2 separate regions of the Homo sapiens genome follow, and region 1 is linked to region 2. The links come from fine-mapping of genetic effects on gene expression. A gene starts in region 2. The other region holds a variant in brackets. All regions are shown on one strand. Distances are from middle to middle.

What was found. PIP is the estimated chance that this variant, and not a neighbour inherited with it, causes the effect. A credible set is the group of variants that fine-mapping cannot tell apart.
Region 1: its variant is the best candidate, but not a certain one, in a credible set for the expression of FRS3 in blood mononuclear cells (TOPMed, PIP 0.73).

Annotation. Positions count from the first base shown.
Region 1 is chr6:41,806,987-41,812,359 of GRCh38, reverse strand. It overlaps USP49 (ubiquitin specific peptidase 49), which reads left to right. Exons shown (of 8, transcript NM_001286554.2): 4 at 5,349-5,373. Among named protein-coding and RNA genes, the nearest start is that of TOMM6, 22 kb to the right of the region's middle. The variant T/C (reference allele first, on the strand shown) is at 2,418.
Region 2 is chr6:41,776,932-41,782,304 of GRCh38, reverse strand. FRS3 (fibroblast growth factor receptor substrate 3) reads left to right here and starts at 2,405. Exons shown (of 7, transcript NM_006653.5): 1 at 2,405-2,489; 2 at 4,129-4,272; 3 at 5,295-5,373. The coding sequence starts at 5,318. PRICKLE4 (prickle planar cell polarity protein 4) reads right to left here and starts at 1,523. Exons shown (of 8, transcript NM_013397.6): 1 at 1,479-1,523; 2 at 785-955. RefSeq lists silencers at 1,740-1,809, 2,090-2,499, 2,530-2,679.

The sequences.
Region 1 (5,373 bases), 30 kb before region 2:
TGCCTGTAATCCCAGCACTTTGGGAGGCCGAGGTAGGCGGATCACCTGAGGTCGGGAGTTCAAGACCAGCCTGACCAATATGGAGAAACCCCGTCTCTACTAAAAATACAAAATTAGCCGGGCGTGGTGGCGCATGCCTATAATCCCAGCTATTTGTGAGGCTGAGACAGGAGAATCGCTTGAACTCGGGAGGCGGAGATTGTGGTGAGCCTAGATTGCGCCACTGAACTCTAGCCTGGGCAACAAGAGCGAAACTCCGTCTGAAAAAAAAAAAAGAATCATTGAGATTTTAGAAGCCTCTCCAGGTTCAGATTCATCAGGACTGGAGTAGTAACCAGGAAATCTGTATATATAACAAGTAGCCTGGGGAATTCAGATGTTGGTAGGTAGTTCAGGGACTACATTTTCAAAGAATATTGAATTAGTGAGAGTGAGAAACAGGAATTGTCTGCATCTTGATATTTTTCCCTCCCCTTCATTCCTTCATTACTTTCTTTTGTGTCCCAGGAATTAGTTGTAAGCATCAATGTGTACCCAATTTGTACCCTTAGTTGGTACTAAGTAGCAAGAAGAAAATTCATTTATTTACTATTCCATCTTTTAATGTATGTGTGTTTTGATTTGGCTGTGCACTAAGAAAAATCAACAAAAATGGTTATTTCAATACTATTCCAGACTGTGTGAGAGGGTAATTCTGACAGAATACTTTTGACCACTAAGAGTTGAGCACCCACAAGTCTTGGCATTATAAGGGGGTAAAAACAGAAATATACATAATCTCCTCTCTGAAGAAGATTACAGTATTCCCCCCTTATCCTTAGGGGATATGTTTCAAGACCCCCAGTGGATGCCTGAAACCACAGATAGTATCGAACCCTATATATACTATGTTTTTTTCCTGTACATACATACCTATAAAGTTTAGTTTTTAAATGAGGCACAGTAATAATAACATAATACAATAGAACAATTACAACAATATACTGTAATAAAAATTATGTGAATGTGGTCTCTTGGAGTATCTTACTGTACTGCACCACAGGTGACCGAAACCTCAGAAAGTGAAACCATGTATAAAGGGAGGCTACTGTATATCTTGTTAGAAAGTGGGCAAACACATCCAGAAAAATGATGTAAAGGGTGCTTAGCAATGAGAAAATCATGATCTGGCTTGATTGAGAGTAGTCTAGGTCGCTTCCCTTTGTATGATTTGAGGGTTTCTTATATAAAGACATGCCTCTGCCATCTGGAACAGGCAATAAAAAAGGGAAGAATCTCTAATTTGGTCCTGCAGTATATTTATTTATTTGTGGGTTTTGGCACACATAAATAGGACTAGGCCAAAAACGGCATCTGGAAAATTAAAGGGGCTACTCACAGTACATTGGATTTAGAACTTCTCTGGGTTGACCTCATAATCATGAAACTGCATTTGCTCACAGAAATGAAAAGTAGAGAATAAATGGAGGTGAAAGAAATTCACCTTGAAAGAGGAACTACCGGCCGGGCACGGTGGCTCACACCTATAATCCCAGCACTTTGGGAGGCTGAGGCGGGTCACCTGACCTCAGGATCACCTGAGGTCAGGAGTTCAAGACCAGCCTGGCCAACATGGTGAAACCCCATATCTACTAAAAATACAAAAATTAGCTGGGTGTGGTGGCCCTTGCCTGTAATCCCAGCTACTAGGGAGGCTGAGGCAGGAGGATTGCTTGAACCTGGGAGATGGAGGTTGCACTGAGCCAAGATCATGCCAGTGCACTCCAGCCTGGGCAACAGAGTGAGGCTCTGTCTCAAAAAAAAAAAAAAGAGGAACTATCTTTAGGGAATTGAATTATTTATTTATTTTTTATTTATTTTTTATTTTTTGGAGACGAAGTCTCGCTCTTGTCCCCCAGGCTGGAGTGCGATGGCACAATCTTGGCTCACTGCAACTTCCACCTCCAGGTTCAAGCAATTCTTCTGCCTCAGCTTCCCGAATAGCTGGGATTACAGGCGCCTGCCACCACACCTGGCTAATTTTTTTTGTGTTTTTTTTTTTAGTAGAGACGGGGTTTCACCATGTTGGCTAGGCTGGTCTCGAACTCCTGACCTCAGGTGATCCGCCTGCCTCGGTCTCCCAAAATGTTGGGATTACAGGCGTGAGCCACTGCACCCGGCCTATTTTATTATTTTCTTTATTTTTTTATTTTTATTTATTTATTTTTTGAGACGGAGTCTTGCTCTGTCGCCCAGGCTGAAGTGCAGTGGCGCGATCTCGGCTCACTGCAAGCTCCGCCTCCCGGGTTCGCGCCATTCCCCTGCCTCAGCCTCCGGAGCAGCTGGGACTAAAGGCACCCGCCACCGCGCCCGGCTAATTTTTTGTATTTTTTAGTAGAGACAGGGTTTCACCGTGTTAGCCAGGATGGTCTCGATCC[T/C]CTGACCTCGTGATCTGCCCTCCTCGGCCTCCCAAAATGCTGGGATTACAGGCGTGAGCCACCGCGCCCGGCCTATTTTCTTTATTTTTTAATTTTTATTTATCTATTTATTTTTTGAGACGGAGTCTCGCTCTGTCACCCAGGCTGGAGTGCCGTGGCGCAATCTCGGCTCACTGCAAGTTCCACCTCCCGGGTTCACGCCATTCTCCTGCCTCAGCCTCCTGAGTAGGTTGGGACCACAGGCGCCCACCACCACGCCTGGCTAATTTTTTGTATTTTTAGTAGAGTTGGGGTTTCACCGCGTTAGGCAGGATGGTCTCGATCTCCTGACCTTGTGATCCTCCCGCCTCGGACTCCCAAAGTGCTAGGATTACAGGTGTGAGCCACCGTACCCGGCCTATTTTATTATTTTCTTTTTGAGACGGAGTCTTGCTCTGTCCTCCAGGCTGGAATGCAATGGCGCGATCTTGGCTCACTGCAACCTCCACCTCCTAGGTTCTAGCGATTCGCCTGCCTCAGCCTCCTGAGTAGCTGGGATTACAGGCGCCTGCCACCACGTCTGGCTAATTTTTTTATTTTTTTAGTAGAGATGGGGTTTCACCATGTTGGTCAGTCTGGTCTCGAGCTCCTGACCTTAGGTGATCCACCTGCCTCGGCCTCCCAAAGTATTGGGATTACAGGCATGAGCCACCGCACCTGGCCTTTTTTTTTTTTTTAATTTTAAAGAGACTAGGCCAGGTGTGGTGGCTCACACCTATAATCCTAACACTTTGGGAGGCCAAGGCAGGAGGATCACTGTGCCCAGAAGTTTAAGACCAGCCTGGGCAACATAGTGAGATCCCCATATCTACAAAAAATAAAATTAGCTGGGCATAGTGGCATGCACCTATGATCTCATCTACTCTAGAGGCTGAGGTGGGAGGATCACTTGAACCCAGGAAGTGGTGGCTGCAGTGAGCCAAGATCACACCACCGCACTCCAGGCTGGGTGACAGAGAGACCCTCTCTCAAAATATATAAATATATAAGTAAATAGATAGATAGATTAGATAGGACAGGTCTATGTTGGCTAGGCTGGTCTTGAACTCCTGACCTCAATCCTTCCACCTCAGCCTCCCGAAGTGTGCAAGCCACGGTGCCCAGCCTAAGGAATTTTAAGTTCTGGTATTGAGGGGAAAACGCCTTTCAAAGTTCCAAAGATATAAAAGTTTTCTTTTAAAATAGTTGTATAGCAGCCTGGCGTGTTGGCTCACACCTATAATCGCAGCACTTTGGGAGGCTGAGGTGGGCGGATCACGAGGTCAAGAGATCGGGACCATCCTGGTCAACATGGTGAAACCCTGTCTCTACTAAAAATACAAAAAAATTAGCTGGGCGTGGTGGCGCACGCCTTTAGTCCCAGCTACTCGGGAGGCTGAGGCAGGAGAATCGCTTGAACCCGGGAGGTGGAGGTTGCAGTGAGCTGAGACCACGCCACTGTACTCCAGCCTGGTGACAGAGCGAGACTCCATCTCAAAAAAAAAAAAAAAAAAAAAGTTGTATAGCTTCTTTCCCTTGGAGAAATTGCCCACAAGGCTTCTCTGATTATTGAATTGAAGAAGCATTATTGGGAGGGGGAAAAAAAAACATGCTTAGGATGTTCTACTGTTTTAAAAAGCATTTTCATATATATCAGCTGGAAGATTCGTTGCTTTTTTTTCTTTTGTTTCGGTAGTTTGGTTAAATATTATACCAGTAGCCACTTCACCTCTTGTCCTAAGTCAGATTTGTCCAGTTCTTTACTTACCTTTCCTTTCAGTAAAGAAGGTAAAAGTTTTCCCACCCTTACTGCAAGATGCAGATGTTCTTTTCAAAAAGACGGATGTTGGCTGGGCGCAGTGGCTCGTGCCTGTATTCCCAGCACTTTAGGAGGCTGAGGCGGGCAGATCATTTAGGTCAGTAGTTCGAGACCAGCCTGGCCAACATGGTTAAATCTCGTCTCTACTAAAAATACAAAAAAATTAGCCGGGTGTGGTGGTGCGCGCACCTGTAATCCCAGCTTCCTGGGAGGCTGAGGCAGGAGAATCGCTTGAACCAGGGAGGCAGAAGTTGCAGTGAGCTGAGACTGCACCACTACACTCCATCCTGGGTGACAGAGGGAGGCTCGACCTCAAAAAAAAAAATACATAAAAAACAAAAAATAAATTAAAAAACACATATACGGCTGTGCACGGTGGCTCATGCCTGTATTCCCAGCACTTTGGAATGCCGAGGTGGGCAGATCACCTGAGGTCAGGAGTTCGAGACCAACCTGGCCAACATGTTGAAACCCCGTCTCTACTAAAAATACAAAAATTAGCCGGGTGTGGTGGCGTGGCGTCAGTAATCCCAGATACTCGGGAGGCTGAAGTGGGAGAATCGCTTGAGCCCGGGAGGTGGAGGTTGCAATGAGCTGATATCCCGCCACTGCACTCCAGCCTGGGCGACAGAGTGACCCCGTCTCAAAACAAAACCACATATACAATGTTCCTTAGTCACGTCTCATAAAAATGATACTTTGTACTGGTGAGGACTTTCTTTCTCTTATTTCTATCTTATATCATGTTATCTCTGCTTTGAAAAACATTGCAATCGACCTAAAATTGACTTTTTATTTGAGTTTCTTCATCTCTCCCACTGGTATGTGAAACACCATAAAGTTTCAAATTTGTGCTAACCCTTCCGTAAGAGTCTTCCTTTTTAAGTAATTTAACTGTCCTGTAACTCTCTGCCTTTATACCAAATGTGCCTTTTTTTAACTTTCAAAGGAACCAATTTGGAGTTGAAAATGAATGAATCTAGAGTTGAAATATCAATTGCAAGCCTTTTACTTTTTTTTTTTTTTTTAAGGAAAATATTTTTCTAAAAGTGTTTTCTTTTTCTTTTTCTTTTTTGGGGACTCTGTCGTGCCAGGTTGAGAAAGTGGCGACTTCTATAA
Region 2 (5,373 bases):
AGGTCAGTGGTTCGAGACCATCCTGGCCAACATGGGGAAACCCCATCTCTACTACAAATACAAAAATAAGCTGGGCGTGGTAATGTGTGCCTGTAATCCCAGCTACTCCAGAGGCTGAGGCAGGAGAATCGCTCCAACCTACCTGGAAGGCAGAGGTGGCAGTGAGCTGAGATCATGCCACTGCACTCCAGCCTGGGCAACAGAGTGAGACTCCGTCTCAAAAAAAAAAAAAAAAAAGCGACTATTAATGTAGAGAAGAGATGAGCCCCGCCCTCAAGGAGCTCATAGTGGGTAAGACAAAGATGAAACCAGGTAGAATGGGATCAATCAGAGCTCGGGACAGACATACAAAAACCCTGGAGAAAAAAATAACCAGAGCAAACTTTTTAATAATATTTACTCTGTGCCAAGGACTCTTCTAGAATATTACATAATATAGTCCATCCTCACAATAATCTTATGAGGTAATCTCTTTCATTCCACTTGACAGTTGAAACAAGTTAATTAACTTGCCCAAGATCATACCAGAGGCTAAGGGAAGCCTTAGGGGGACCTGGCTTCTGAGAGCTGGGATAGATTCTGAAAGTAGCTGGGCACAGGAGGGTCATCATCAAATCCCTGGCCTCTAAGACTGGGCCAGGGATTCGTACTGGGGTTGAGGTGAGGGTTTGGACTGTAACAGTTAATATTGCTTCCCAGCACTGAACCCTCCTCAGCACCGCCCCTCCACTCCCACTTCAAATGTCCTGTGCCACCCTTCCCTCCTTCCTGGCTTCACACCCACCTGCTTCCTTCCTCTTCTGTCCTTCAGGTCAGGTTTCCTGTGGAAGGTGGCCAGGATGGGCTGTTCACACCAGGAGTAGCCACTAACAGCACTGCCCCTGCTCCAGGCAGCAAGAAAGGAGGGGGCGTCTGGGGCCCCAGGAGGGGACTTGCACCCTCTTCCATTTTGGCTCTAGTTTGCATAGAATTGTCCAACACAGAAACAACACTCAGAAATCAGGCCTCTATTCCTCACCCTTCCAATCTCCCCAAAGGCAGCCAAACTCCACCTCCACCTAGCACTGGAACACCCTTACTAACAGGCCAGCTGGATTCCTTCCATAATTCCCTTCCCCCTCCCACCTCAGATAAGGGACAGAGCTGAACCCCTTGTCTTGCCTCCGTGCAGAGCCTCCGTGCAAGAGGGCTCAGGAGCTGGACATCCCCAACACCCGCTGCCCTGAAGGGCAGAGCCCGAGAGGACTTAGGGCTTGGGGAGGTGGAGGGATGGGAAGATTTCTGGGGACAGTGGGAGGGAGAAGGAAGGGGAGTGCCCAGTCCCGCCAACTGCCCTCTCGATAGATCCCCAGAGTTTTTCTGGAACTTGGCGGGCCCGCCTCCGGGGCTGGGACGCGGTGTTTCCCGAGTCCGCTGGGGTTCCCGGTCTGGCTGCTGGGATTTTAGGGGAGGGGACCAGGACTCCGCTGGGGTCTCACCCTCGCTGTGCGTCGCTGTCCGGGCAGTTCTGGACCGACTCTGCCGTCAGGCCCCTCACCCGGTCCCCACCCCAAGGCTTCAGCGCCCGCCCCCGTCCGCCCCCGCCCGCCCTAATAGCGCGGCCCTTCCTCTCCCACGCCCCAGCGGCCCCCGCCCGCCCCTCCCCGGCTGGTGGAGAGGGGCGGCTCAGGGAGGGGCCTGGAGCTGCAGATTGGGGGGAGGAAAAAAAAAAGGAAAACAAAACCACATTTATGGGATCTCAGGGTGGAAATGTGCGGGCTCCATGGCCTCTGCCATGCAGGTGCAAGGGCTCTCTGGCTCGGACTGCGCCCGGCAGGCATCCAGCAGACGCCGGGAGCCGCGTTTACGCTGGGTTTTCAACCATTCGCTGAATGGAAACGCCTCGCCGGGCCCGCAGCCCTGTCTCTCCGCAGTTCCCAGGTCTCCCCAAACTCTCCCTGTGGTCTCCCAGCCCCGCTCCTCCGCGTGTTTCCCTTCAGTTCTCTCCCCCTTGTCCCCAGTGGTCCCCCTGGCCCCTTCCCCTCCCCTCAACCCTCTTCCAGGTTCCATCGTCTTGCCCTTCTCCTTTCAGGTCCCTTCAGACCCTCTCCCCTTCCCTTCGTTTCTCGCCCAACCCTCCGTCCCCTTTCCGCTCCCCGGACCACCCCCAACTTTGGTGTCCTCAGCCCCGCCTCCGCGCCCCGCCTCCGCCGCAGGCTCCGCCCTGTCCCCTCCGGGCTTGCTCAGCCCCTGGCCAGGAGCGCCCTCTGGCGTCTGCGCATGCTCACTGCTCCCGACTGCAAAGTCCTCCAAAGGGACCTTCTAGGCTGCGTGCCGGTCGCCCCCGCTCGGGTCCGCCAGCCCGCAGCGTCTCGTTGGTGCTGCCGGTGACCTCCGACCCCGCGGCCGCGGGGCGGGGCGGGGCGGGGAGGCCTTAGCTCCGGGCGGGCGGCGGCTGCTGCAGCGGGACCCGGGAGCGGGGCCCGGCGCCGCCCGGGCCGCGGGGCGATGTGAGTCGGGGCGCGGCGGGGCGGGGACGAGGCGGCTTCACCGAGGCCGCGCCGCGCCGCGCCGCGCCGCGCCGCAGTCTCCACTCCCTCCCTAGGAAGCCCCGGGCGGGCGGGCAGGCGGCGGAGCACCGGGGCTGGGGGCGGGGATCCGGGGACAGCGCGCACCCAGACCTCCTCATTCCTTACGGGCATGTAGAAATTCCCCTTGACAGTCCTGTAGCCTGTCCTGCAGCCTCTGGCTCCCCCAACCCACCTCTACCCTCTCCGCCCTGGACACATCATCGCATCTCCTGGAGCCCTCAGAACCCCCTCATTCACTCAACAAATCTCCTGCTATGCCCACGGACCCACCATTTCTCTTGGATGCCCCCAAATGCTTCCACTGCCCGGAAATTCCTAGGATCCCTCATATCCCCATTCTCCTTGCACTATCCAAAATGCCCACATCCAAAATTCTTGCTCATGTTTCCCCAAACGTCCTCATACGTTTTCAGCCCCCACACCCCCCTCTCACTCCTGCCCCTGATCCATACCTATCCCAGACCAGAGGCCTCTCCCCATTTCCACTCAATGCAGTCCCTCCTCAGTGGGCTATCTGATACATCCTGATATCTTAAGGAGAAGAGATGGTGATAGGGAAATTCAGCCCCTCCCCCATCTTGCACCCTAGAGTTCTTCGTTTCAGTGCCCGCGCCGTGCCCCCGTCGGTGGCTCAAGCCCCAGTATTTTCCCAGCAACCTATCTTTAGTCTGTGCACACCTCCCTGAGCCTGCTTCTTCCTTCCAGAAAATAAGCCAGACCAAGGGGATGGGGTCCTTTTACCTGGAAGTTGTCCAAGGATGCAGGGTGCAAGGGGCCCTGGGAAGTGTTTCTCCAGAGCAGGAATGTGGGATGTCCAGGGTCTGCAGAGTCCTGGCTTGTTGACTTGTCTACCTTGGGCTCAGATATCCTGAAATTTTGGCTTACTGTTAACATTTATGTTAAAATTAGGCCTTTCAGAGCTTGGGGAGCAGAAAATCTATCAAGCTTCCAAATGCGAAATTGAAGCAGCCTGTCTTGGAAGATGAACATGTCAATTTTAGTGAAGTTTGTCTTACGTTTTTACCTCTGCAAGTTATTTAAGCTAGAAGCTCCCCAGTTTATAGATGGTTCCCCCAAAAACTAAGGCCTTAGGTGGGAGTTGGGGGGGGCGTTGACTTAAGTCTCCCAGATACTTAGTAGCAACAAAACTGACCGATATATTGGTTTCCTGAGTCTTAAACCAGTGCTGTCTCTACTATATCACAGTGTCCTTTTGAGAAAGCTCTTTGTAGAGTTAAAGTTCTCTGCAAAGGTAAGGTGATGGTTTTGGTGTTTGTTGTAACAGGACTCAGAGGGAGATCTAAAGTGACTTAAAAGGTCTTTGGTCGTCTTAGACTTCAAACTTATTGATGTTCTTGGTGTCTGTCCCTCTCAGGGCCCGTGGGGCTTGGGATTTGTGCTCCCTTTGCCCTTGATTTTACTTTCTTCATTGGTGTTTTTGTCCCATTAGGGCTGGAACAGATACCCAGGTGGGATGGACTGTTAGGTCAGTTTTCATTAACAGTTGGGGGTGAAGATAGAAGGTTTTGTTAATCAGTGTCTCTGTTTCCTATGCTAGGTGAGCCCCAGGTGTATCCCAGAGGGATCCGGGTGACTTCTCTGCAGACTGTTTGCCATGACAGCCCACCAAGGACGGGGGGAATAAAGTGGGAACCCTTCCCCATGCCCCTCCCACGGTCAGCTCCCCGATGGCCTGGGTGAGGTAAGAGCTGTGTATAGGGGTCAGTTTTATGGCGTTTCCCAAGTTGGGAGGAACAGAGGGTACAGGTCACCTGGTTGTTCAAAGCTTTACCATTCAGCAGGAGTTCTAGAAGGATAGCCAATCCTACAGACTTATTTCTTGTGACAAGTTGCAACCCCTTAAAACTTCTGCTTGGTATTGGTCCATGCATTTCTTGTTCCCTTAGGTCATTCAAGCTTGGGTGGTGTCCTCTTCATTCTAGGCACAGTCCTGACTATTGTGACATATAATCCAAGTACTGGAATCCTGGAGGGGAAGAGCCAAATAGTAAGGCCTCTGGTCTCCCCTTCAGAAAAAGGGAAGGAAACCCAGCATTTTTTTTAAATGAAGAAATATCCACTTGAGGTTATTAAAACTGCACTGTTTTAAATGTTCAGTCTTCTGAATATATCTTTATGATCACAATGTAACAACTCATTTGAAGAGGACATCAGAAAGATAAATTTGCACTGGATGTTGGGATGGTAGTAAGGGAGAAGAGAGAACTTGGATGAAGTGGAATGGATGAGGTAAAAAGGGAGGAAAAAAGAGACAGGCACAGGCCAAAGTGTCTGAGACCCCCAAGTGACAATTTCTTTGCTGAATCCAAATAAGGGGCTCGGGCTGGCACCCACCTCCATCTGCTGCAGATCACTTCTCCTGGACCCCTACTTTTCTTCCTGCCTGTGTCCCTGCCTTCCTTGTCATTACATGGGTCAGAATCCTACATACTTCTCAAGGTCCAGATCAAATGTTACCTCTGAGAAGCTCTCTCCAGCCCCCCATCGGCATTCATCCTTAACACATTGTAACTTGAATTAACGTTTATCCAATGTGTGTCTGGCCCTGGATTGAGAATGTGAAGTCTTTGAGGGGGGGTCTGTATCACACAGTCTCTTGGACAGAGTAGGTGATCACAATGACGTGCTTCTGCCCAAGTTCCCCAGAGCAGGGTTTTTTGAAGCTGAAGTTGGTGACCTGCATATCCTGTATGTTTTTCCTAGGGCAGGCTGGCTGCTCTGACACCATGGGGAGCTGCTGCAGCTGCCTGAACAGAGACAGCGTTCCAGACAACCACCCCAC